Regions from separate parts of the Homo sapiens genome. Here region 1 is linked to region 2. Evidence: fine-mapped expression QTL. A gene starts in region 2. The other region holds a variant in brackets. All regions are shown on one strand. Distances are between the middles of the regions.

Region 1 (11,123 bases), 22 kb before region 2:
CTACAAAACTGCTTTCCAAAGAAACTACCATCTTTACATTCTTACCAACAACATATGAGAGCTCCAGTGTCTCCATATTCTCTCCAACACTTGGTATTGACCATCTTTTTGATTATAGACATTCTAGTGGATATGTACTGGTATCTCACTGTGGCTTTGTATGCATTTCCCTAATGATTAATGACAAGCATCTATTCATGTGTTTTTGTTTTTCCATTCATGTATCTTCTTTGGTAAATATGTTTAAATTGTTTACACATTTTGCTTATTATTGACTTGTCATATTATTGAGTCATAAGCATTCTTTATGTATTTTAGATACAAGTCCGTTATCAAAGATAAATGATTTGCAAATCTTTTCTCCCAGTCTGTGGCTTGTCTTTCCATTCTCCTAACAATGTCATTAAAAGAGCAGAAGTTCATAATTTTGATAAAGGCTAACATCTATTTTTTCTTTTATGCAACTCACATCTTAGAAACTTTGGCCCAACCTAAGCTCACAAAGATTTTTCTACTGATTTTGTTGAGTAGATTCATAGCTTTTGTTCTTACATGCAGATCTATGGTATATTTTGAGTTATATTTTACATATGGTGTGAGGTAAAAATCTAAACACTTTATTATTGTTGCTGTTGTTTGTTTGTGTATACAGACATCCAATTGTTCCTGCACCATTTTTGAAAAGTCTCTTCTTTCCCCCATTGTTAAAAAGGCTACCCTTTTGTTCTTTGCACCCTTTTCAAAATTCGATTAACCACAAATGTGAGAATTTATTTCCGGACTCTAGTCTTTACCATTGACCTATATGTCTATCCTTTTGTATCTAATTATTGTGGCTTTAAAACAACTTTTGAAATCAGATAGTGTAAGTCCTCCAACTTTGTTCTTCTTTTTCCAAAATTATTTTGGCAATTTTAGGTCCTTTGCATTTCCATACAAGTTTTAGAAAGAACTAGTCCTCCTTCTTCTTGTTTGAGCACTATAGTTTTATCTTATGGAAACAATTTTGTATTTCTTTCATTTTTGCTTTTCTGAGAGGTCACAATTTAATCTAATTTGAAGAAAGTTTGTCAATAAAGTATATCAGGTTGTGCCTGGGGCATAATAGGTACTAAAGAAATATTAGCTCTCCCCTCCTTCCACAACACAGCCTACATTTTTACTAGAAGTTGGAAGTCAGAACAACATAGGTTTAAATTCTTCCTCTGTCACTTACCAAGTGGGTGTTCTCATGCAAATTATGTAACCTCACTGAGCTTCATTTCTACATCTGTAAAATGGAGATAATAATATTGACTCCATGGGGTTTTATAACTAGTAGGTGTAATATAAATGTGTCAGGTACATAAAAAGGCCTAATAAACATTTTATGAATGAATGAATAAATAAATAGAGTTAGCAACTATTCAAGCTATATGGCAGAATGAACCAATGACACTCCATGGCTTGATGATTAAACAAATATTTGGGAAAGAATAGCCCATTTTCTAGTTTCCTATAGACATTCCTGGTAAGAAACTAGCCTCCCAGACTCTACCTACTTCTGGTGATGGGTAGAAAGAAAATTCAACATTCCTCTCACAGGAGTCTTTGTGAGGATTTCCAGAATTCAGGGACCCACCTTTCCGTTTTTTTGTGTGCTAAGTAATACACACAAAGTGCATTATTTCTATCTATCACCAGAAGTAGGTACAGTAGGCCAGGCATGGTGGCTCACCCCTGTAATCCCAGCACTTTGGGAGGCCAAGGTTGGAAGATCACTTGAGGTCAGGAGTTTGAGAGCAGCCTGGCCAACATGGCAAAGCTCCGTCTCTACTAAAAATACAAAAATTAGCTGGGCGTGGTGGCAGGCACCTCTAATCCCAGCTACTTGGGGGACGGAGGCACCAGAATCACCTGAACCTGGGAGGTAGAGGTTGCAGTGAGCTGAGATCGTGCCACTGCACTCCAGCCTGGGTGACAGAGTCAGACTATATCTAAAAAAAAAAAAAAGGAGGTAGAGCCTGGAAGGTGAGTTTCTTACCAGGAATGTAGGAATGTCTGTAGGAAATTAGGAAATGGGCTCTTCTCTTCCAGCTATTTCTTTAATCATCAAGCCATGATTAGTATTGTATTTGTTTTTGTTTTTTTCAGAAAGGGTGGTCTCCTTATGTCACCCAGGCTAGCCTCAAACTCCTGGGCTCAAGTGATGGTCTCACCCCAGCCTCCTGAGTAGCTGGGACTATTAGTGCTTTCTCTAGGTCTGGGCAAAAGAGAGTGTGCTTGTTGCTCCTAAGTTTGCCAGATTTAGCAAATAAACCACAGTTAATAATTAAGAAAAATTAATTCTTAATTTCAGATAATGAACAATATTTTAGTATAAGTATGTCCCATGCATTATTTGGGATATACTTATATTTTAAAAGTTTCATCATTTATCTGAAATTCACATTTAACTGCATATCCTGTACTTTATTTGTTCCATGCTTTAGAGGGCCTTACATAATATAAATGCACTTAAGACAAGAAAAAAATAAATGTAGTAAAAAAAAAAAATACAGGGGACTCTGGTATTTGTCATGCACATCTGGTGTTCATCAGTGGCACAGCATAACTTGTAACCCTAAACATTCTCTTTTATAACTAAAACATTCCCATGGCTAACACTGTTCAGGCTCCACAGAATCACCTGTCCACCCCTCTTGCACTTTTGTCCTTGAACTAAAAGAGAATTTCATCCAAATGCCATGACGGCTTATGGGTTGGGCCACTGCCAAGGTCCGAGGCAGATATTGCTTCAAAGTATTAGGAATTTTTGAGTGATCTTCCTTTCAGATAACATGGATGACATAGACTCTTACAAAGTTAAATATAGGTTCACTGTAGTGCTGAGTGACCTATTTGTGCTCAAGTGCGTGGTTCTGGAGGTAGAGTCAGTACCCATGGATCCCATATTCATGTATTCAACTGACCATGCATAGAAAGTAGGGAAAAAAAATAAAAATAACATTACAACAGTACAAAATAATACCAATAGAAAAATAATACAGTATAACAACTGTTTACATAGCATTTATATTGTATTAGGTATTATAAATAATCTAGAGATGATTTAAAGTATACGGGAGGATGTACCTAGGTTAGATGCAAATACTATATCATTTTATATCAGGAACTTGAGCATCCACTAATTTTGATATCTGTCATAGTACTGGGCCCAATCCCCTGCAATTACTGAGGAATGAATGTACTTGTAAATCAGTGGAGCATTTGTGACATGATGACAGGAAAACATTTTGCAATATTAAACAAATTTGTATATTTATAAATATATCTATGACTGCATAAAACATGATAGCAATTCTTTAGTTGGCAACTAGATAGATGTTTAATGCTAGAAATGCAGATAGATTTATTTTTATGAAATATTTAATAGGATTTAAATATTTGCAAAACTAAATCATTTTAAATCATCAGCTGTATTTAGATAATTTTGATCTAAAAGTTTGGTATTCATTAACTATTGTTGGTAACTTGCCTTTTAACTTTAAAAAGTAATTTCAACTATTTTAGGAGAAAAATAAGTGGCTTAAAATGTATATAAAATAATTCAAATTTTTCACATTTACATTAATTCACCTTTTAAATATAGTTTAAATAAAAATATATTTGTATTTTTAATCTTTTATACCACTATTATGAAGTGAGCATAAATGATGTGAAAATCTTGATTAGAACAAAATAGCGACCAAGCTAAAATAGGTGATAAAAATAAAATGTATGTAGTGATTATATAAGAATCATTATTTAAGCCTCTATTTATTATTTATGTAAACATTGCCAGCTCATCAAAAGATGACCTAGACACGTACAATGATAATTAAATTCAGTAGTCTGTAATATTTTGCCAATTACTAGTCAAGTAAAAACAACAGCTTAACACGTATTTTTAAATTTTGTTGCTATTTTGCACGCTAGGCAGACAGTACATTTTATTCACCAGTTTAAGTTTTCCATTAATTTCCATTAATTTTCCATTAATAAGTTTTCCATGCTTAGACCAGAGTGCTATGCTTCTTCGTTGGAACTCTTGCTCTGGAACAGTCTAGATTGCCCAGGTGAGGAAGGGAGCCGGCCCAATACTTTTATCTTCCCTAAAGGGAGAAAAAAAAAAGACATACCAGCGGGCTCCTGCACTTTGTCGTCGAGGAAGTCTAACTCTTGCTCCCTTATAAGACCAAAGACTCCTCTAGACTCTGCTGAAGAGGCAAGGTCAAGGTGGCGAGTGTGGGATTGGAAGGAAACACAGAAGGGCAGGGAGAGAGCCTGCTGAGTCCTGGGATGCTCAGAGAGGCAGCGCTTTCTTCACAGGGGCCTGGAATCTCTCCTAGGAATAGAGTTAGAGGGACATGTGTCCGGAGCACGCTGCAAATGAGGCTGATGAGGCCCTGCACGGCAGAAATCCTGGCTGAGGATGAGCCCAAGGCTGGGTGAGGAAATGTGATTGGAAGAGCAAGTGGAAGGCTGTGAGAAATCACCTACACTAGGTCTAGGATGGCATAAAAAAGCACTTTGCAGTGAAAAAGGTCCAAATATCCCTTCCTTGGGTGGCGGCCCTTCACCTCCAGCAGCAGGCCCAAGTGCCTCACCCCACAGCCCTGCCCTAGACGCCAGCCTCCCAGCTTCTCTGCCTGGGGCCCACTGAACCCTGCAACTACATTCGGTAGTGGGCAGGGGGTGCTGCCAGGGTTTCCCCCATGCTGTTTCACAAGCACATGCTCTTCCCTCTGCCCACACCCACTCCTTGACACCCCCTTTCTGTTTCTGGTGGACCCCCATGCACCTTCAAGACCTAGCACAGTGTCACCTCTTACCGACTGCCAACCCAGAGCAGGATGATGGCCTTCCCTGGGCTCCCCTGGGGTCACACAGAACGGATTCTACCCCAGTGTTCGGTCATCCTTTAATATGGAACACATCACACATTGAAGTTTCTGTCTCCAGGAAACTGCGAGTGTTTGAGGCTCAAGGACCCTTTCATCCCCTGTTCCCAGTATCTGTCGTATGTTCCTGGCATGTAATCGACAATAAATGTCTGTTGCCTGAATTGATCATAGTCTTCCTTGATCCTCATTATACAAAGTAGAAATTGGCATATTATAATATCATCTCATTTGTGTAGGTGAAAACGAAGAAGTTAAGTTCACTGACCAAGGATCTCAGTGCTGTCTTCTGGCTTCTAAGGCCACAGTACAGGACTTTCTACTAAATTGTGGGTATTAAATTAAATGGTGCTTTTTTTTTTTTAATTTAAGGAGGTTCTGTTAGCTGTTAATTCTGTTTGAAGAACAAAGGGAACAAGTGGTTCTCACCTTGAAGCTATGGAGCAATAGACATACACTTTGAAGCATTCCTTCACCAGTGAGAATTGGTTTTGAGCCTTCCTTTTGCCTAAGGTCGAGTTGGTATCATTAGTTGGGAAATAATTACACAGTGCGGAACATTCACCCCACGAGAGTCTTTGTTTTGTTTTTTTAATCAACCCTTTACAGGAAGTTGGTTTTCACCCAGGTAACTGCTGCAAAATATTTATCC[A/G]GGTAAGAGAAACATTCCTCAGCCAATCAGAGACATTTCTTCTGTGTGACTTCACCCACCTCATTACCATTTACTACGCAGGCCTTGTAATTACCTTCAGAAGGGAACACATCCTGTTTCTGCTTGCTCAAACTCTCTGACTGACATTTTCTCTGACTTTCCAGAACTGTGCTGAGAAGTCTCCGTCAGACAGGTAATGAGGAGGCCTGGCTCTTTCGGTCAAAATGTGCCTCAAAACATGTGGGGGCACAGGGAAATTTAAAGCCATCCCTGAAGAGTCAGACCTACTCCTCAGTTGGGAATGACCCTCAGTCCTTAGGGGAATAAACACAGGGATGGGCAAGGAGACGACTACCCGGGGAGAGGCTCCAACCAGACATGGTAAATAATGCCCTGAGGCTCACACATGTGCACCCTTCTCTCCCCAGGAGCAGACCTGAAAATCAGTAACACTGACGCAACATTTACATGGAGCCTCAGCTGGGATGGCCATTCAAATCTCTGATAAGCTGATTTTCTATCCATTGGTACAATGTAATGAGTGAAAAATCGGTTAGGAGTTCTAAAGGGCCAGCCTCAAATACCAGCTCTGCGTCTTTGTAGCAGTGACCTTGGGCAAGTTACTCAACTCGCCAAACATGTTTCACCGTCTGTAAAATGGGAATGACAGCATTTGTCTCACAGCTAGTGTGAAGAAGATTCAATAACACAGGGTATAAAATCTGCAGAGCACAACTGTCTAGCACTGGAGCTGGCTGCCACCAAATATTAGCATTCTTTCCTCTTTTGCCCTCTGTCCCTGGAGGAGGACATTGTAAGGACCTACCTGCTCAGGGAATGCTATTAATAGTTAATCATCATGGAGGAACCGGCAGTCACAAAAAGCAGGAGCTGCAAATTCAGCTTCCTATGAGGGCCAGGAAGGGGGCCCAGTGTGTGTGCAGGGGGCCATGACAAGTAGGAGAGAACATAACCTTTAAAGAGGCTTCTCAGGATTATTTTAAATACATAGACATCTGGACTGATGTTAGCTGAGCTTCGATTTTTTAAGAGAAGCAAAACTTCAAGATATTTACTTGCGAGTTCCCAGTTTTTAAAAGTTGAATCAAATTAAAATGAAAATGAATATTTTGTAAGCCAAATAAAACACTTTCCCACAGGCTGCCTGTTTGCAATCTCTATACAAGGTAACAATGCAAATGGTACAATACATTACATAGGGGACTGAACTTGAAAACCAGTGCAAATCTTGTTGTACTTGCATCATTTACTGTGATCTGCAATACCATACACAAATGAGATATGTGTTACACAGATAGCTGACATCTAATGAGCTCTTCCTGTGTGTCTGCATTACCTTATTTAATCCTAGCAATTCTATAGGGTAGCTGTTATTATGCTCACCATTTTACAGATGTGGTTTAGAGATAACTCTCCCAAGATCATCTATTTGTTAAGAGGTGGAGCTGAGATCAGCTATCTTGTGTACTCCAAATCCCAGGTTCCTCAACACCACCCAATGCCTAATGCTTACGTGACCTTGAAGAGTAAGGGAGCGAGGCCCAGGGAGAATCTCGGTCAACAAGTTATTACCACCATGTCTCCTTGGCATAAATTTTTAAAGTGAGATGTTGCTGCTATCTTGGAGCAGAACATTTTCTGCCAAGGGTTGTTGCCTGGAGGTGTTGGCTATACTGCATGCTTACCGAGAAGACTGGCTTTAAATATGTCCAACCAATAAACAGAGAGAAGCCTACACTTAAGAAAATTGGAGTCAATATTTGTTACAGCCCTGAAGTCCTGCAGACTAACAGGATGTGGGCACAGAGCAGTCATTGGTCATGGAGCATGACACAGTTCCCACACACACTGCCAGCACCCTGGCCCACCCACCACCCCTGTCTGCTTCAGACACTTCAAGCGAGGATTACAGAGTGGATTGTAGATGCAGCTCCTAGGAGGCTGAGACCTGTGGTGTGTGGGCACAGTCCACATTCCCACAAGCTTTAACACATGTCAAAAATAAAATATCACCAGTCAATGAAAACAACAGAGCTACCATTTCCCACCCAACCAATTGGCAAAATTTGAAAATACCAGTTCTTCATATCGTCAAACATGTGGGGGAAATGAGAATTCTTGCACATGGCTGATGGTATAAATTAGTTCAGAAAACATTTGGTATATTGAAAATGCATGTGGCCTATCACCCAGCTATACCATTTCCAGCTATATATTTCTGGAGGAAACGTCCCATATGTGCACAAGGAGATGTGTGTAAGAAGTTTCACTGTAACAGTCTATGTGATGTCCAAAGATAGAGGGATTAATAGATTTTGTGGCCCATTCACACTGGGGAACACTGTGCAGAAGTTGAAATGAATGAATTAGATTATCATAAATCCACATGGTTACATCCTGGCAACATAATGTTAAGTGAAAAAAAGAAAGTCACAGGATGATAAATATATCATGTCACCATCTCTGTGGGTGTTTTTAAAATACACTATTATGATATGTTATATGAGGAAAGAAAAAATGGCATAAATTGAAAGATGCACAATACATTTGTGATAGCAGTGACCCCTGGGGAAGGAAGAAGTGGAATGGGACTGGGAAGGAGAACAAAAGGGACTTGGACTTTCTCTGAAGCAAATACAATGAAACATGCACATCTGCTCCTTCTGGCTAGTGGGCACGGGGCATTTGTTACATTCTCTATTGTTTCTATACTTACATACTTGTTGTCCAAAATAAAAAGGAGAATGGTATCCTGAAAAAGCACTGATCTGGAAAGCAGTTTGCTCACCACCTTGGCTGCGCCATCTTAGCTCCTCGTAACTCTGGTGCAGGCAGCTTCCTTCCCAATCAGGGTGTACATCGCCTGTCTTCTGGTAAGGACCTGAGCAAGTATTGGGTCCAGCCCAATTCTGGGGTCAGTTATTCTGTGAAAGTCAAATGTAACTTGAGGTTTTGAAAGGAGGGAAGTAGGCTGGGCGCGGTGGCTCACGCCTGTAATCCCAGCACTTTGATCACGAGGTCAGGAGATCGAGACCATCCTGGCAAACACAGTGAAACCCGGTCTCTACTAAAAATACAAAAAAATTAGCCGGACATGGTGGCGGACACCTGTAGTCCCAGCTACTCGGGAGGCTGAGGCAGGAGAATGGCATGAACCCAGGAGGCAGAACTTACAGTGAGCCGAGATTGCGTCACTGCACTCCAGCCTGGGCGACAGAGCGATACTCTGTCTCAAAAAAAAAGGGAGGAAAGTCTAGCTAGCATGTAGAACATTGCCAGCTGTATTTTAAGAAAGTTTTCTAAGTTCTCTAATCTTAAAATACAGTCAGAGAAAGAGTAAAACTTCCTGATAAGTCAATATACAATAAATCCCAACATGGTGTGATAGAGTTAGGAATCAGACAGACCTGGACTTAAATTCCAGGATCATTATTTCCTTGTTTTGAATCATTTGGCAGAGAAACATATTTGCATCTCAGTCTCCTTCACCATAAAATACGGAAAGGAATCTCTTCCTCATGGCTCTGTTGTGGGAACTTCACAAATGAATAAGGTCTGTCCTTATTCATTCCTCAGGCAAAATAGACACCTATAATCCTGACCATATTTCATTACTTCTAAGTCACACAGTTTCTTCCATTTAAGAATCTCTGAAATCAGGGTCTACTTATAATCTATAGTATCTTAAAATTATAATTGGTGGAATTTTTTCTTATTTCTTACCACGAACAACACAAAAATATGTCTTATAATTAGTGAGGTTTCAATTCTGCTAAATATAGTAGTTCTGACTTTCCTCTTTCATATAGTAGGTATGTGTAAATCTAGATTAATCAGTAATGTTATTAGGCTGTTATCTAATCTGTATCGCCAACCCTGAGAAAAGCGCTCATAAGAACTTACCTCATTTTAATCAGTCATACCAGCCTTCCTAGAGAAAAAAAAATAAACGGGGTTCCCTCCACAGTGGAAGCTTTGGCCCTAGACAGGATGTATCCTTAAAATCAATCATCATAACTTCAACATGTTTTATGGTTCTCCTGAAAGACTGAAGGTAGGCAAGATAGGCATATCTGAAGAAAGCATTAAGTACACAATAAAGCTGTAAACAAGCCCCAAGCTCATCTTCAGATCTAGTCTGTTAATAAGCAACAGAAGTATTAGCTAAGCATTTTTGGGAAATGAGGAACAATTTGGATAACTTTTGAAACATAAAAAATGTAACAGGAAAATAAAAGTTCCAGAAAATGTATATAATAAGAACACATTATGCTTTATATTTTTCAAAGATTTTTTCATCTGTTTTATTTGATAGATTATCACAAAAATTTCATGAATTAAAAGAATAAATATTATTCTCTTTTTACACATCAGACAAATTAGGCATGGAAGTAAGTGGTTTATTAAGATCACATAGCTAGTAGAAATAGGAGTAGAACCCAGATGTTCAAATTCTCATTCTTTTTTTGTTTGTTTGTTTTGTTTTGTTTTGTTTTGCTCTAACAGCAACCAAGGAAAAAAAACACAAAGATTTTATCTGTGTCCTCTTATGGGCTTGCATGCCAAATATTTTATTTATCTTGCTTTTCTGATCACGCTTTCAACCTATCTCATAAGCAACAGCCCTGAATTTCTCTTTTTCTTTCCTTCCAATGTATAGACCCATAAAATCATTCCTTTAAAAAAATCTGACAATCTGCTGTGACAGTAAAAGCCAATGTATTCACTTTTGTCATATCCCAGCCTGGCAATTTGCCTGTATCTTCTGGCATATTCTAATGAAATTACTGCTCAACTTACAGTGTACTTCCTTACAGCCCTGAGTGAATTCCCCTGCCCCATTAATCTGTATTTTCATCTATCCAAGATGTCAACTTGATATCTTATTTTCCATTTTGCCTAACTCGCTAGTAACACAATCTGTGAAACAACACATCCAATGGAAATTGCTCTGAGAAAATGTGATCATAAACGTGTCAAGTTAAGCATGTGCTAGGGTTTTTTTTTTTAATACAGTTCAGATAGTATTAGGATATATGTAATCAAAAACACAAATGTGTTTTTATTTTCAAACCAAGAGAGATTCCCAGAACTCTTTAAAGTAGTGGTTTATATCTTTAGCAAACTAGTTGTGGCCCATTGCTAGTCATTTATCCATTATTTTCTTATGCAGAAATGACATGAGAGGATTAATTTGTATCCTGTGGAACCTCCAGCCAAAACAGTTGGTCAATAATAATTGCTACTTTCACCAAGTGTTATGCATTACTTGAGGAGATTAAGTATTATTAAACTGGTGTTACAAGTGATGAAGTTGAGATTTAGAGAAGTCAAGTAATTGTCTTAAGTCACCTAGCTAATAAGTAGAAAGTCAGGATTTGAACTCAAAACCTACACCCTTAACCACTCTGATATGAGTTTAATTTGATCTGAACTTCTATCTTTAAAACAGGGATTGAAGGCCGGGTGCCGTGGCTCACTCTTGTAATCCCAGCACTTTGGGAGGCCAAGGCAGGTGGATCACGAGG
Region 2 (11,123 bases):
GGCTGTGGTAAGGAGTGAGAAAGTGCAGGTGAAGTGTCTGGCCCTCAGTAGGTGTTTAGGAAATGCTAGATATGATTACCGATGTTATTCCTGCCCTACCAGGAAACTCTTCCAGCTATTAAAAACATGCACCTGATTGAACAGAAACAAAGTGGCTTTATCCTGAAATAACTGATGAAATTATAGCAGACACATGGCTACAGCTTGGGCTCAAACATGTGGAAGCATCTCTCCTTTCTTCAGTTGTGAGTGAATTGCCATGGGAGGTCATTAGGGAAAGTACTGTAGCAGGGTGTGTTTTTTTTTCCTTCGGGATATGACGGTTTTACTGCTATTAATAACAGATGTGGCCAGGCAATTACAGACTTAAGATGGTTGATCACATCTTGCATTTTAAAGCTTAATCTGATCACCTCCAGGGTCAAGGAATTACATAGCTATCATAATGGATAAAGTCTGTCTTGTGCCACCACTTGTGGACCAAAGTTCAAGCCTTTGAGGTCTGAAATAGTTTATCTTTGTTCTGCAGCGTGGGGGGTTGAGGGGGGGTGGCGGGGCGGGGTGAGGGAGAAAGAGAAAGAGACAGAGAGAGAGGAGATTTATTTTCCGTGCATGTATAAGCTGCTCCAAAGCTCAGCCATGAGGGTGCCCTGTTACCCTGGCTCCCATTCAAGTTTAGCTAGTAAAGCTACTTTTGGGAAAAATGAGAAGTCAGGAGGCCACAATTCTGCTTTCAGGTCTGCTACAATTCCCTTTGCAATTCTGAGGCTTTTACTCATTTGTGAAATTTGGACAATCTCACGACATTTACTTGTCCTCTCCACAAAACTTAGAGCTCTCTAAAGCAGACATTCTTCTAGCAACCATTGAATTCTCAGTGTCTAAAATAGTGTCTGGTATATAGCAGACACTCAATAAACACTAAACGAATGAATAAATGACTGTCTGGGTTTCCTTCCAGTTACAACATAACATGATTCCATAAAATCATAATCTAGTGCATTGAGTTGACTCCAATGCATGTGGCAGATAACATTTGCTATCAGCTTTCTTGATTTTCTCTGCCCACTATTGAGACAACTTCATGAACATTTCCACCAGAATGTAAGTAACATGTATAAAAGGAGATGACCTGAGATTTGCCAAATTTTCCTCTTTTCTAGCCGTACTGAAAATGGTTTGGAAAAAGAAGAAAGTATTCATTTGAAGTGTCGGTTATCTGCTGGTTTTATTTACACAGGGTGTGCCTGTCAACCACTCCCATCCATAATTGAGACCAGCCACCCACAGCACCTGTCGTCAAGGCCTCTATACTCAGTTCCCCTTAGTGAGATAAGGTGAAGAGAGACCACTAGCTAACAATGTGTGAAAGCTTCAAGTGACATGACAGTCACTCCAGATCTGGAAGGGGAAATGACAAAGGAAGACATTCTGGTTTTTTGTTTGTTTTCATGTACATGAGTCAGGGTTCTTGGTTGTAAATAAGACAAACTCACTCTGGCTGATTGAAGCGGAAGAATTTATTGTAAGGATTTCAGGTACCACGGAATAAAAAGGATACTGTCACTGGTTCCACCATGATTGCTAGGTACTACCAGTCTCTAGAAACTCGACCACCAAGATGAATTTTAACGTGTCTCTGTCTTTGCACCACTTGATCAAGATTCACAGTTCCCAAAAGGAGAATCTCATTGGCCAGATCACACGCCACCCTAGCTGTGAGGGGTTGGGAGACCAAGTATGTGGCCCCCTTATGCTCCACGGTGGGAAAGAAGGTCCTAAGACTCTCACAGTGATGGAGTGCCCCAAATATAAAGAATGTTTGCATGCTGGTCAGCCACAGAAAAATGAGAGATGTCCAATGCATCACAGTTTAGTAGTGTAGCATCATTTATAAAGATGGGTAAAACTCAGTCTGTACAGCCACACATCCAGTGCCCTAAGTGGGGCAGATTTATGATTAATGGGCATAGGCTTGTTAGGATTTCTTGCTCTAAAGGCTGAAAATTGGCTGGGCATGGTGGCTCACACCTGTAATCCCTGCATTTTGGGAGGCTGAGGTGGGCAGATCACTTGAGGACAGGAATTCAAGACCACCCTGGCCAATATGGTGAAACCCCGTCTCTGCTAAAAATATAAAAAGCCAGGCGTGGTGGTGCATGCCTGTAATCCCAGCTACTCAGGAGGCTAAGGCAGGAGGATCACTTGAACCCGGGAGGCAGAGGTTGCAGTGAGCCAAGATTGCGCCACTGCACCCCTACCTGGGCGACAGAGTGAGACTCTGTCTCAAAAATAAAAATAAAGGCTGAAAATTTTACCAGCCAAAATTAAATTTTAACCAGTTAGCAGTTTCCTGGCACTTTGCCCATAACAATTTTAAAAGTTGTGGTTGAGCACTGCATGCTAGTGGTATATTACAAAACTCCATGCTGCCACCATAGATGAACCCAGGAGAAGTTCTCCTTAATCAAGTTTCCATTTTCCCCTCCTAAGTCCTCGAAAGAGCAAGACGACTCCATGCTTTGCTCCTTCGTAGTCTAGTAGTGACTCTGGAACTCCAGGAACACAGCTTATAGACTTTAGCCCCAGCTCCCCACATAAGGGTCTGGAGGCTGAGTATAAGAAGGGCCAGGATCCATGCTGGGAAACTGCTTGGTCCATGATGGTGATCCTCAAGGCAATAAACAGGACTGAGACCTGCAGAGGAGCTGGCCTGACTGCAGAGGACAAAAGCAGGGGTGTGAGCAGGTAAAGTGGAGGTCACAGCACGAGGTTTCTTCATCCAACCAAGGACATAAAAAGTTGCAGCAATTTCACTTCCAGGAATCTAATTCCAGTGTTGTGATATAGGAGAAACCAAAGTGTTGTCTCCCACTCTCACACAGCCAGCACACTTTTAACACTAGATGTGTGGGGGATGTTTCCCCTCATACCAAGCAATTCTGCAACAGACACCGGCTGGGTGTCCTTTAATTCAATTCAATTCTGGCACTATGTACCTGGAAATAGCAGGGGCTCAGGGTTTGATCCTATGAGACCGCCCCCCATTTCAGATGCCAATCCCAGGTAGTAGGTTGTCTCCTGTACCTCTGCCTGCCCAGCTATAAACTGGAGTTCCCCCAACCCACTCCTTGTTTGGACTAATCTGCTAGAGTGGATCACAGAACTCAGTGAAACACTTTACTTCTGTTTGCTCATTTATGAGGAAGGATATTACAAAGCATATAGATGAACAGTGAGATGGAAGAGATGCACAGGGCAAGAAATGTGGGAAGGGCTGTGGCGCTTCCATATCCTCTCTGAGCACGCCACCCTCTAGGAACCTGATGTTCTGCTCTCCAGAACTCAACAAACCCTATCCTTTGGGCTTTTATACAGGCTTCATTGCATATGTCTGATTGATTACATCATTGGTCACTGGTGATCAACTTAACTTTCAGCCCCTCTCCTCTCTGTGGAGGTCTGGGGGGACAGGGTGGGACTAAAAGTCCCAACCCTCTAATCCTGCCTTGATCTTTCTGGTGACCAGTCCCCATCCTGAAGCTATCTAGGGTCTCCAAGTCACCAACCATCTCATTAGCATACAAAAGGTAAGATATTTTCATCACTCTGGAGAGTCCAAGGAATTTAAGAGTTTTAGGTCAGGAAACAGGGACTACAATCAAATATATATTTCACAATATCACACGCAGATATACCTGCACAAGTACACACTGATCTATGTACAGGGATATTCACTGAAGCATTGTTGGCAACCACAAAAAAAGAAAAACTGGAAATAATCATCCATGGTTACATCAGTTCAATATATTACTGTATAATCATACTATGAGACATAACACAACTACAAGAAAGAGGTCATATATAAGTGATATGATAATGTTGATATATTAAGTTAGAAGAGCACGTGGCAGAACAGTTTGCATACTACTATTCCGTTTTTTTTTAGAAGGGAATATACAAATAGTCTTGTATATACTGGAAGGGCAACCCAGGAACCGTGGGAACTTTTTGGGGAGGGTGGCAAGGAAAGAGAGACCTTTACTTTTCATTTTCTATCCTATTTCTGTTTGACTATTTACTGTGTAGATGTAGTCTACTCATAATTAAAACAAACTAATTTAAAATGCCGGAAAAGTGAAGCATAGCAGGAAAAAGGAGTCAACAGTAAAGAAAAATTTTCCCCAAAAGGGGCTTCTCTCAGTTAAGAACACTTCTGAACTGTACTCACTGAATGTGAAGACCCAAAGAGAAAACAGTCTCTGTCTGTGTCTTTTCCTTAATGTCGCTCAGAGCCAGACCTCTACTCACCTGGTGAGGACCTGGGTCAGTCTCCTGGTATTTGGACATGATCTGAGAGGAGTGAGTCAGGTAAAGGAACCTTCTGGACCACAGACAACAGCCAGGCTCAGCAGGGATCACTGAGGTAGGAATCCCCCCACCCAAACCCCTAAAAAAGAGCCAACAGTTATTAAAAACATGGGACTAGAGTGGGGCAGACTGGGTTTATGGTCCTGTTACAACAGTGGTGATGCTAACAGTTAAAAGACCATAGAAGCTTGTTTCAAATTAATTGGCCTGTAGAGTAGGAAAAAAAAAAAATGACTCTACTAATGATCCTAGGCAATTCTGTCTTCTAGGTTACAGCAAGCAGCCCCCAGAATGGCCTTTATTGAAGCCTGAGTGACAAGAAGCCTGTAGCGGGGTGAGGGGGACCCGCTTGGAAAAAGGCCCCAAAAGAGGAGCTCTTCCTAACTCTCCAATGACATGGGAAAATTTTACTCACACAAAATTCCCTGGAAACCCAGCCACCTCCCGCTCCAAGAGAAGGCCTAGAGATGCAGTGGCCAGAGACAGCCTCAGGCCTTCTTCCCCATGCTGGGGGTGCTGCTGCTTGCCTTCACCCCGACCCGGTATCCCCACTTCCCGCTGCCCCAGATCTCCCAGGCTGAATGTCCCCTCTTCGCCTCCACTCTTCTGAGCTTCTAAGAGCTAACTCCAAGTGAGGAACTGAACCCCTTCCACCCCTACCTCCCCAGGCAATCTGTAGAGCTCTTGAGCCCTAATACCAGTGTCTGGGAGGCGCGTAAACGCTTCCATTTTTATCCTTCCACTGCAGAAAATGCCCAGTTTAGTCTGGGAGACACTCAGACCCCTCGGGACAAGGGTGGCTAGAGAGAGGTCCAAGCTGCCCTGGGTGGGTGGGGAGTCAAGGCAGGCCAAAGCTTCAGATTTAGACAGTAACCACCAAATCCGACCTGGGCTGCAGGTCCAAGGCCTCTTCCTCTTTCCTGCATGCTCCGCTCTGCCGCTGGCCCATCTTCCAATGCAACCCCTACAACTACCAAAGCAAAAAGGCCTGTCCCAACTCCATCCTCACGGCCCGATCCCCAACCCTCAGGGGATGCCGCTTCGTGTCTCCTCTTTATTTTACAACGCGGCCCTCCTTGCAGCCCTCACGAAAAGTTCTGCAGTGGGGTCCCCCAGCGTGGGGCCCTTCTCGAGACCCTTAAAGAGAAGGCTCGTTTGGTGGACCATACCCGGGCAGCGCGGGCCCGGGCCTGGACTGGTTCTACTTGTGTTCTGAGGTCCCTGACCACCGCCTTGGGTCCAGCCCTCGTCCAGGGGGCGGCGGTGCAGGGGAGACCGCGCGGCCCGGCCTGAAGCGCGGCCGCCCTCATCCCTTCCCCGGGGCTGGGGTGGGTCACCGGCCGACAAACACAGGAGGGGCCGCGTCCCCGTCCCCGACGCGCTCACAAACGCCGTGGTCGCCCGAACCTTCGGCCCCGCAGCATTCGGCTACAGGACCGCGACACTGCAGGGCCCCGGCTCTGCGCGCTGCGCTCCGGCCGCTCGGCGCGGGAGGACGTGCGGTCGCGCCTGCCTCGGTGGCCGCGCGGGGTAGGTGGCTGCGGGGACCGGAAGGATGGCGAGGAAGTCGGAAAGGGTTTCCTGAGATGAGAGATTACTTCCGTCCGGGCTGCGGCCTCTCTCTGGAGTCGGCTAGCCGGGGCTCGGGGAGCGGGGTGCGCAGGGCTCGGGGCCACGCCTTGCCACCTGCAGCGCCCGGGTGGGCCGCGGGGGCCTCGGCGGGACGCGCTCGGCCCTGTCGCAGGAGCTAACGCAGGGGGAATCCTTGCAGGTGGGAGCATTTCAGAGCGCACAAGCCATGGTGGCCAAACAGCGGATCCGGATGGCTAACGAGAAGCACAGCAAAAACATCACCCAGAGGGGGAACGTAGCCAAAACCCTGGTAAGGCGGGGTCGGCGCCGGCCAGGCAGAGCCCTGCAGCCCGGCGGGGTGGGGCGGAAGGTGGGGGCGGGGCCGGGCGGGTAGCGGCGCAGGGTCCGGCCTCCCGGCTCCCGGCCCGCCCCTTCTGCGGGGTCCTGCAGAGTGGGGGCTGAGAGCTGGGTTCAGGGCGGCGCGGTCTGCTTGGCGTCCTCGTGGGCGGAGAGGGCCCTGGTTGGTCGTGGCCCCTCTGGGAGTGGCTACCTGGGCTACCAGGGAGGCGCAGAGGAGCCCTCCTCCCCGACCCGCACCCCCTGTCCCCCTGCCCGGGAGACAGCTGGGCCTTGTCCCGGAGAAAGACGGAAAGCCTCATCCTTAGGGGCCAGTTAAGTCAACTGCATGACACAGAGCCTGGAACCTAGTATGTTCTAGAACGTTGCATGACACAGAGCCTGGAACCTAGTATGTTCTAGAACGTTTGTTGAATGAATGAATGAATCAATGGCTAAATGGAGGCCACTTGTCATCTCCTCCCGGACTCCACCTGTCTTCCCTCCCCAACAGACTTGCACCAGGATCAAGTTTTCTTTCCAGCCCCTTTGTGACGGTTTCACTGGAGGTGTGGAAAGAGCTCAAAATGGGGAGTGAGATTTGGACCCACATTCCCTCCAGCCTCTTTTTTCTCTTTTACCTCTCTTCCAGCGAGACCTCCCTCAGCCCCTAGGCTAAAGTCTAAGGGCAGCATTCCTATTCTTTCCACTTGGTGAATTCAGACTCATTCTCATGGTATAACTTTAGAGACCAGTTTATTGTCAGGCATTCGGTGTCCCTAGAACTGTAAATTCAAGCTTTGCAACTGGACTTTTAAGTAAAACCTGTGCCTTACACTCAGGAGTTTCTTTTAGCAAAGCAGATTATCATCAACAGAAAATGCGAGGCCTGTGACTTTGGACATTCAGAGGCATGAGTCGCATGGGTAGTTTGGCGAAGTTGGTCTCCAAGTATATGAGCAAAGGCGCCTGGGATCTGTTACCCCGTACAGTTAAGTGGAAATCCAGCTGAAGCCTGGAGTTTGGCTGGGAAAGCTTGCAGATTTGATGAATCAATTCCTTTTAGCCAAAGAAACTATATTGGTTTGATTAACTAAGCAAAAAGCTAGATCTGTAATCATCACACCAGAATTCTTGCAAAACCAAGCAGTATTACGGCAGAGAAACTCTAGGACCAAACTCAACTCTACTCAGAGCTTTATACACAAGTCTAAGCATAACTCAACTCTACTCAGAGCTTTATACACAAGACCTAAGTAATCCTTAAAATTCTCTCATTTAGGAATTATATCACTCAGTTGTGATTAGGCAGCAAAATGCCAAGATGCCATCAAATTGGAACCATTTTGTCACATTGATTTATGTTTTCCCTATTTTTACTGAGGAAAAAAAAATGGCTGCCCGGGTTGACATTGAGAAGCAACTTATAATTGATGTTAAGGCATGCAGGGTTTTATATCCCTAAGAGATCAATTCTTCCTTCTCAAGGGATCAGACCTGCTAACTGACACAGTGAAAAATAACTAGTCATGTGGCTCTTTTTCATGAACTAAAAAACCGGAGTTCAGTTGTCAGATCTCAGTTGACAGCTTATCTGATTACAAAAGTAAGAAGAAAACAAGAACTAATTTCTAAGGCTGTTGTATCTATTAGGTTCTGTAGACTCAGTGTCTGCCACCTCAAGTTCTTCAAGAAAACTAGAAAATGTTTGGGACCCAAAACAAAAATTATTAGCTCCAAAATAAAAGAAGAAAATGGAAAAATTGGGAAAACATTGTTTAAATACCTAGAAAAGGTACCAGTCACCTGCCATTCAACTCAATGTTCAGAGCTACATTTAAATTATATTTAATGTACAGTATGAGTTCATTTTAATATGCTCTGATATGTCATGGGGTGGCCCCCAAGAAACTCTCATAGTGCCTTGCACCTATAAGAGTTTTTAAATGGCCCAGCTAAATTTGTAATGAAAGGTTTCCAGACCAAGCCACAATCAATGTTTGCTTTGCATTGGTTGGGGGGATTTTGGTTAATGTTATTGTAAATAGATTACTATCCAATAGAAAAATGAAATTTTCTTTCAAAGAGAAACTTGATAAATCCTAAATCTCATGTTCTCAATTACAAGTCAAATATGATTATACTTTGTTAAAAGTAACTTGCAAAAGATCACTATTCAGGATGAAATTCATTAAATGGGAACAAGTATAGATTCCAACTGAAAATTCAGACTAATTGTTCAGAAATAAACTTCTTTAATTGTATGCAGATGCTTCAGTATTTTATTATTAGCTAATAGCTTACGGATAAATTAATATTATTCTCCCAGATAGCAGACTAATCCAAGAAACAAGGCCGGGCGTGGTGGCTCAGCACTTTCTGTAATCTCAGCACTTTCGGAGGCCAAGGCGGATGGATCACCTGAGGTCAGGAGTTCGAAACCAGCCTGGCCAACATGGCACAACCCCGTATCTACTAAAAATACAAAAATTAGCCAGGCATGGTGGTGGGCGCCTGTAATCCCAGCTACTCAGGAGGCTGAGGCATGAGAATGGCTTGAACCCGGGAGGCAGAGGTTGCAGTCAGCCGAGATCACGCCACCGCACTCCAGTCTGGGTGACAGAGCAAGACTCCGTCTAAAAAAAAAAAGGAAACAGAGAAATGGAATAATCATTTTGTGATTATACAGTAGTAACTTCTCCAGAATGAAGGGGGAATTTAAATTTCAGAGTTCTGAGTTACCCTACGGGTATCTTAATCACAGGGAAAGCCATTCCCTGACATTTTTGGAGCCTCAAGAAGTAGCAAACTCATGTTTGGAGTAAACCATGTCATTTGCAGAATCACTACTAGTTTTCCCCACCTTTTCCAGCCATAGAGTAAGGTTTATGTGAATTGTCCCAATGGGATTGTGCTGGGCACCCCTTCTAAAAAGTAGTCACCCAAAGCTGTCAAAAAAAAGATATATGGGTACTATGATCAGCCAAAGTCCCCAAATCATGTTGATTCCATGGAGAATGTCATCCAAAAGGTTTTTGTGTTATATGGTCCAAGCTCTACATGCTGATCATCTGTTTTTTCTGCATATGAAAAATAAAGGACTCTATTTGGTATCTGTCCTGGGCAAGTAATTCATTACAGGCTTCTGAATTCACTTATTAGCTTTGCTGGAAATAGAGATAAAATGAATTTTTTTATATAGCATCAGTGGCACAACAGCAACAGAACTGGTTTCTGGGCAACTGTGACAAGTTCCTGGGAAGGTGGTGGAAGAGGGTGGGAAGGGCGAATGTCACACTTTGTTCAGGTAGCTTTATGAATGTTGTTTACCGGATCTGAACTTGGCCTGGCCTTAAGGGCCAAAAAATGGCACAGTTATCTTATGCAATTATTTAAGACTGATCTTGTCCTCGTCTGATTAAGAGCAGCCACCGATTCCTTTGCAGTGTGACTTGCCGGCATGTAAGTGGTGGTAGATACAGGCTTAGTCAAGGACAGAGAAGTGAATGTCTTAATCCTTAGTCAAAGTCTACCTGCCGTTGACACTTTAATCCATATTTCTCATGTAGGAGAGATACAGGGATAATCCTACACCAATTAGGAATTATTACTAAAAAGACAATATCCTTCCTAGAACCTGTGTTTACTCTGCCTAACCTAAGAAATCTTATTTAATGAAACTTGTATGTTTATTTGTTCTTTGATGAACGTTTATTATCTCCTATGTTTAAGTTCTGTGGCAGGCATTTCTATATATTACTACATGAACAAGACATAGTCCCTGCCCTTGTGGGGTCTGTAGTCTCATAGAGAGACAGATATTAAACACATTAATTATCACAAGAATAAATATAGACCTACAAACTGTGACACATGCTATCAAGAAAAAGTATGTGGCCATACAAGTGACGAGTGGACCCAAGTGAGGTAAAAGAGAAGGGCTCTTTGGTAAGCTGAAAACTAAAGAACTGTTGCCTTATCTATGATAAAATAAATTCCTTTTTTAGATGAGAAGCCAGTTTACATTTACATTAGCCTAGAACTTAATTTTACATATAAATACAACACATCATAGATTTTACAGTTTTAATATATGATAAATTTTCTAGGAAAGCAACTACAGTGAAAATCAAAGGAAGATTATCCTTTTTTAAAGAAGTTTTTGTTAGAAACATTACTAAAACTTGTTCAACATTTCAAAAACTTACATCCTTGATGATAGCACCACTCGTTTTTTTTGAAACACTATTACATACCTTCAGTCTGAATGTCAAGCTGTGGTATTTGTATGGATATGAACATACCTTTTAGCCCATATTTTACAATGTTGAATACAATGTTTAAATGTCAACAACATTTAATTGAAATCTGGAATTGGGTTTTATGAGATCAACCACAAATCAATACTTGTGAACATTCCACTCTACCAACACGTTTTTCTTTGTGTGTTTTGCATGTGAATTCTTTAACGTGTGTTGAATGCAGCCTATTTTTCAAGCTAATCAGAAAATAATTAGTGAGTTCTTTGTTGTTGTTTTTTTTTTCACTCTCCCATTCTATTTGAGAAATTCACTTCTTTTCTGATGCATCTCTCAGAAAATATTTGTTGTTCTGACTGATTTGGGTTTAAGGACCAAGCCCTACCTGCACATAGACCTGGAGGTGTTGTGGAGGGAAGATCTTATTATGTCTGTGCTTTTGGTTTGAAAAAGCAGGAGGTCTGTAGGGCTTCATTCATGCAGTTTTGACAGTCCCCTTCTGCTTCCCAGAGAATTCAGAGACTTCTCCCAAGTGCAAGCTTTATTAAGGCTTAGGAGCTTTATTACAAAATGCTGCTTCACTCA

Evidence for each region.
Region 1: its variant is fine-mapped to the expression of SERP2 in whole blood (TOPMed, PIP 0.97).

Annotation. Positions count from the first base shown.
Region 1 is chr13:44,345,448-44,356,570 of GRCh38, forward strand. No RefSeq gene overlaps it. Among named protein-coding and RNA genes, the nearest start is that of SERP2, 23 kb to the right of the region's middle. The variant A/G (reference allele first, on the strand shown) is at 5,575.
Region 2 is chr13:44,367,857-44,378,979 of GRCh38, forward strand. SERP2 (stress associated endoplasmic reticulum protein family member 2) reads left to right here and starts at 5,968. Exons shown (of 3, transcript NM_001010897.3): 1 at 5,968-6,253. The coding sequence starts at 6,170. LOC105370297 (a long non-coding RNA gene) reads right to left here and starts at 5,710. Exons shown (of 2, transcript XR_001749858.3): 1 at 5,541-5,710; 2 at 1,503-5,341.